Linked DNA regions of Homo sapiens: region 2 is linked to region 1. Evidence: fine-mapped QTL for protein levels in blood plasma. A gene starts in region 1. The other region holds a variant in brackets. All regions are shown on one strand. Distances are between the middles of the regions.

Region 1 (2,826 bases):
GCCTCACCGATCAAGGAGGCCAAAGGCAGCTCCCGGCCCCGCTTACATAAAGCTTCCTGTGTGTGCTGGTCACACCTCACACCTCACGCCTCACGCCTCATGCCTCATTCACACCTCACACCTCACTCCTCACACCTCCAACTCAGACTTTTTAGCTTGAACTTTTTTCTCAATAAAACCACAGAAGCCCAGGCCGGGTGCAGTGACTCATGCCTGTGATCCCAGCACTTTGCGAGGCCGAGGTGGGCAGATCACGAGGTCAGGAGATCGAGACCATCCTGGCTAACATGGTGAAACCCCGTCTCTACTAAAAATACAAAAAAATTAGCCAGGTGTGGTGGCGGGCGCCTGTAGTCCCAGCTACCCGGCAGGCTGAGGCAGGAGAATGGCGTGAACCCAGGAAGCTGAGCTTGTAGTGAGCCGAGATCGCACCACTGTACTCCCCGCCTGGGCGACAGAGTCAGACTCCGCCTCAAAAAAACAACAAAAAAAAAAACAACACAGAAACCCAACAGAGACCTGAAGACGTGCCTGCCTCCCCCATCTCCGGGACCTCTCCCACCTGGGTGAAGGGGGCACGTGAGCCTCACCTGATCTTGACCATCTCAGCTAAAACACTGAACCACCCTTGGCACCCACCAGCAGCAGACGGAGAAGAACTGTATAGGGTGCAAAAGCGCCCCGCCACCATCAGGTCCAGATGAAAACCTACAAGTTGAATCAGCAAGGTGCTGACGGATACGCAAGCAGAAACCCTCTTATAGGAGGTTCAAGGCTGGGCGCAGTGGCTCACTCCTGTAATCCCAGCACTTTGGGAGGCCAAGGCGAGCAGATCACTTGAGGTCAGGAGCCTCAGACCAGCCTGGCCGATATGGCAAAACCCTGTCTGTACTAAAAATACAAAAATTAGCCAGGCATGGTGGGGGGTGCCTGTAATCCCAGCTACTCGGAAGCCTGAGGCAGGAGAATCGCTTGAACCTGGGATGTGGAGGTTGCAGTGAGCTGGGACAGCACCATTTCCCTCCAGCTCGGGTGACAGCAAGACCCTGTCTCAAAAAAAAAAAAAAAGTTTGAGAATGTCAGACAAGGCAGCACCCTGTGTAGGTGCTCAGGTTGGGCGGAGTCTCTCTCGGGGGAGGGGGGTAACAGGACAGCGCCTCCCGGGGCCTCCTTGCATGTCTGTGTCCTGATGCACAGCAGGCGGGGGCTGCGGGGACCAGAGAAGGAAGAAGCGCCCCAGCTGGGCACTTCCCGAGGAGGAAGTGGTGCCGGAATTTCCCCCAGGTGTGGCCTCAGGTATAAGAGCGGCTGCTGCCAGGTGCATGGCCAGGTGCACCTGTGGGATTGCCGCCAGGTGTGCAGGCCGCTCCAAGCCCAGCCTGCCCCGCTGCCGCCACCATGACGGTGAGCCTCTCCACATGCCGCTCGGATGGATGCTGCTTGGATGTGCAGCCTGGCATGGAAGGGCTGGGGTTCTCTGAGCCTGGGAGGAGGGTGTTGGGATGGGGTCTGGGAAACCCCTCAGTCTGGGGGTAGGGGAGGCAGCTGCAGATCCTCGGAGCGCTGGCATGCTGGGTGTCTTGGGCTGAAGGGCTAGCCTCTCTGGGCTTCAGTTTCCCCATCTATAGAGGGAGGGCTGTACTCCATCTTTCCGCTGGGAACAAGGAAAGCTGAGGTGGAAGTGAGGTGCCCCCTGCCCTGGGCACCTCCTAACCACCCACCTGCCTGTTTCACCAGCTCCTCCCCGGCCTCCTGTTTCTGACCTGGCTGCACACATGCCTGGCCCACCATGACCCCTCCCTCAGGGGGCACCCCCACAGTCACGGTACCCCACACTGCTACTCGGCTGAGGAACTGCCCCTCGGCCAGGCCCCCCCACACCTGCTGGCTCGAGGTGCCAAGTGGGGGCAGGCTTTGCCTGTAGCCCTGGTGTCCAGCCTGGAGGCAGCAAGCCACAGGGGGAGGCACGAGAGGCCCTCAGCTACGACCCAGTGCCCGGTGCTGCGGCCGGAGGAGGTGTTGGAGGCAGACACCCACCAGCGCTCCATCTCACCCTGGAGATACCGGTGAGGACCTGGGGATTCCGCTGTGGCGTGGGGCTGCCCCTCCCCTGGCGGGGCCCTGACTGCCCGGAGAGCTCTCTGGGCCTTGGTGGTTCTCACCTGTCAAGTGGGCGTGGCCACCTGAGCTCCCTCCCTCCGGCCCTCCTGACCTGGACGGCTGAGCTGCTGCTTGCGGCTGGCCGTGCCCTGCCTCCCACTGTCCTAGGTGGCCAGGGTCCCCTGGGGAAATTCTGGGCCCGTCACCTGAGCTCCTGCAGAAGTGGGGCTGGGTGATGAAGTGGAAGGGAGGCTCCTAGAGGCCTCCGGACCCTGCTCTGTGCTCTTGGAGGGCCCTGGGGAGACGTGGATTACCACCACATGTGAGCCCGACTGCACCCCAAGCCCGTGTGGCTCAGCCCTCGCTGCCTCAGGTCCTATCCTGAGTACACGGAGAGGGGCCCTGAGGGGAGAGGGGCCTCCAGGAGGACAGGGTAGGGCCAGAGACTCACTGTGCACCCCGTCCCGCAGTGTGGACACGGATGAGGACCGCTATCCACAGAAGCTGGCCTTCGCCGAGTGCCTGTGCAGAGGCTGTATCGATGCACGGACGGGCCGCGAGACAGCTGCGCTCAACTCCGTGCGGCTGCTCCAGAGCCTGCTGGTGCTGCGCCGCCGGCCCTGCTCCCGCGACGGCTCGGGGCTCCCCACACCTGGGGCCTTTGCCTTCCACACCGAGTTCATCCACGTCCCCGTCGGCTGCACCTGCGTGCTGCCCCGTTCAGTG
Region 2 (2,899 bases), 20 kb before region 1:
GCCCAGGCTCGTTATAGCAGGCACTTCACCACCCCAAGCTTCACGAGAGGGGGCACAGTCGTGCAGCGGGAGGAGCGAGAGTCGGCCACTGTTTGGGTGCCATGGGTGTCCTGGGTAGAGTTGAGGGCCTCCCCCGGGAAGGATAATGCTGAGCCCCAATAGGAAACACTGCCCTGAGCTATCTGATGGCCAGCCCTCTGTCCATGGGGGAGCCATTTCTTTTCCTTATCTCTAAGCTAATACCCCTCTTTCCTGAGGTTCTCTCTTACTGCCTAAGCTGTTTGGCTCTGGGAGTTACTGGCTAGCTTGTCCCCGTCGGGATCTCATCCCCATCGGTATCTCTGGCAGGGCTTCTTGACCAGCTCCCCCCTGGACCTGCGGCTGGAGACGGAGTTGTGCCGCTCTCTCCGTCCTAGTTTGCCTTTTGAGGCTTACCCACTCCTCCACCTGGGCTGTTTTAAAATGATTAGAGCAGAACCTTTCAATCAATTCTATCAAATGCATCTGTAGAGCTAAGGGGGCGGTCCCTTATGTGAAACCTAATCTTTATAGCTAGGCCGATGGGTGTGCTCACCGCCGAGGCACGTCATTACGATGCTCTTTGGCTAGTCATTGTCATTAGAAATGTAAACACTGATTGGGGACCTTCCCGCAGGAGCTGTCTGGGCTGCCTGCTGTCTCCAAGCTATTCAACTTCCAGGTTTACCTTTGCAGCTTTGGGTGCCCCTTCAGGGCTTGAGCTTGGCAGGCTCCTGCGGTGGGGTTGTGGGGTGGACCCCTGAGACTGGAAGCACTCGCCCCCCAGCACCTACTCACCCCGGGCTCTTCATTCTCACTCTTCCCTGGTAAGTTCCGGACACCGCAGAGTCCGCACCCCTTTGGCGGCCCATCCAGTGGGCGCCTGCTTCCTGGGCCACCGCTTCATGCTCAGTTTTTTGGGCTGAGCCCTCTCATCTGCCAGTTTGAGGCACCCCAGGAGTCTCAAGATCTCTGCTGGGAGTGGGCCAGGCTACACAGTCTTCTTCAGAGGGATTTGTGACTCCCCTAGAAAGGTTAAGAAACCCTATTTTAGACCAGCCTTCTGGGTAAGGGACTAGTGGAGTTAGGGATTTTCATGTGCAGTTGAACGCACAGAAGGCGCAGTTGCTGGTGTTTGTATCTGCTCT[G/T]CGCTGAGACTGGCTCTTGCAGGTGTGAGTGAGGCCGCCTGGCCTTCTGCACAAGTCACAGAGAAGGTGACGGCCACTCAGGTCGTCCATTGGACTCCACTTTTTTTTTTTTTTGCAAAGTGTAAAGACATGGGGCGGGCACTCCAGGTCTGCTTTGGGCTTTTTCTGTTACGTTTTAAGGGAGGTGGGGAGAGCATGTGGCCCGTAGCTAAATGCTCCACAGGCACTCACAGAACAAGCCAGGAGAGAAGCTTTGCTGTGGAGGTGCTCCCAGAGCTGCCTCTGAGCAGGCTCAGCCCGGGGAGGCCCATAGGCTCCCATCTCCCTTTTCCCTTGTTGATGTAGATGCTTAGCTCTTTTGATTGAAGAAAGAACCTTCATGCGTTTTTATCCTTTTTCACCTTTGACCCCAAACTTGACAGCTGCTGGGGTTGGAGTTTCTGGACACGTGGCCTGTAGCAGCCTGGCATCTGTGGCGCCTCGTGTGGCTGCTGGCATCGGTGAGGCATGAGCTATGAGTGTGCCAGCCTCGGGCCCTTGGTTTTGTCTGCCTCTGGCATGTTTGCATTGGTGGTGGAGCTGACCTTTGCCCCTTAGAGAGTCTCCTGTGGCCTTCAACGGGGAATGGGGGCCAGATGATAGCGCGGGCCTTGTGCTGCGGGAAAGGCTACTTCCTCAGTCAGAGGTCATCTGGAGGGTTCTCCCCTGCGGTTGGAAGTGTTCATGCAAATTCCAGATCTGTCCTGGCCCAGCTTGGAGGTGGGCCTTCCTGACTGGGCCATCCCTTGCGAGCGTTCTCAGCCCACACTGGCTCCCTCTGCGCAGGCCCCTACTTGTGAAGGAGCTGAGCCGCACTCGGTGGGCTGTCCTGGGGCACCCATGTTGTGTGTTTTGGTTTTGTTTATTTTGTATCTGCCTGGTTTTTCCAAGTCTAATCAGGATGTCCCCTGGGGTGACATTCTTTGCTGAGAGAAGGGCACATGCCTCGGTTCCCTGGGCTGTAGAAAGCCAGTGCTCAGCCTTGCTTTCTGCCGCAGACTTGGTGCCCGGAGACTCGCTATCAAAGTGCAGTGGAGATAATGTCCAATGGGAGGCTGAGGCAGGAGAATGGCATGAGGCAGAGCTTGCAGTGAGCCAAGATCGCACCACCGTACTCCAGCCTGGGCAACAGAGCGAGGCTCTGTCTCAAAAAAAAGAAAAAAGGAAAAAAATGGTTATCTGCATCCTGGTTAAAATCAGTACCACCACGTCCCACACGTGGTAACATGGACTTGCTGGATAGGACCTCCTTGCTCCATGGGCCTGGAAGCAGCTGCTTCAGAAGGAAGGTGGTGCGGCCGGCGGCAGCGGAGGGCGCGCTGTGCAGTGACGAGATGGTGCAGGCCCGTCCACAGCCCTGGCCCAGAGAAGGAGAGACCTCACTGACCCCTGCTGGGCCTGCCTCTGGCCATCTTCATTTTGAAATTCGGTATCATTGTCTCCAGAGGGAATGAGCAGCTCTTTCTGGGGGGCAAGCACCAGCTGCCCTGAGATTGTGGAGGCCTGCACTGCCCGCCTCTCTGGACCTCAGCTGGTTTTATTTCCATGCCGTGGCAGGGGGCAAGCAGACGCTGTTTTTCCTTCCCCCTCACCGCAGCTAGGACTCCACATGCTGTTACAGCTTCACCCGAAGAAGAGGTGGTCCTGACCACGCCTTGACTTCTGCCCGTTCCCTCTCCCTGTGTTGGAAGGGC

Alleles and levels. Positions count from the first base shown, and alleles are read on the strand shown. Strength reflects both the effect of a copy and how common the allele is.
For the plasma level of the protein whose gene starts at base 1,329 in region 1, allele G in region 2 goes with a higher level than allele T (moderate association).

Evidence for each region. PIP is the chance, under the fine-mapping model, that this variant and not a neighbour inherited with it causes the effect. Protein levels are from antibody-based Olink assays in UK Biobank. Linkage for the fine-mapping came from a reference panel and not from the study's own genotypes, which makes the PIPs less certain.
Region 2: its variant is fine-mapped to the plasma level of the IL17C protein (UK Biobank, PIP above 0.99).

The regions. Positions count from the first base shown.
Region 1 is chr16:88,637,244-88,640,069 of GRCh38, forward strand. IL17C (interleukin 17C) reads left to right here and starts at 1,329. Exons shown (of 3, transcript NM_013278.4): 1 at 1,329-1,404; 2 at 1,738-2,066; 3 at 2,571-2,826. The coding sequence starts at 1,399. LOC124903755 (a long non-coding RNA gene) reads left to right here. Exons shown (of 2, transcript XR_007065181.1): 2 at 1-191.
Region 2 is chr16:88,616,921-88,619,819 of GRCh38, forward strand. All of the region lies in intron 8 of ZC3H18 (zinc finger CCCH-type containing 18), which reads left to right. Among named protein-coding and RNA genes, the nearest start is that of IL17C, 20 kb to the right of the region's middle. The variant G/T (reference allele first, on the strand shown) is at 1,167.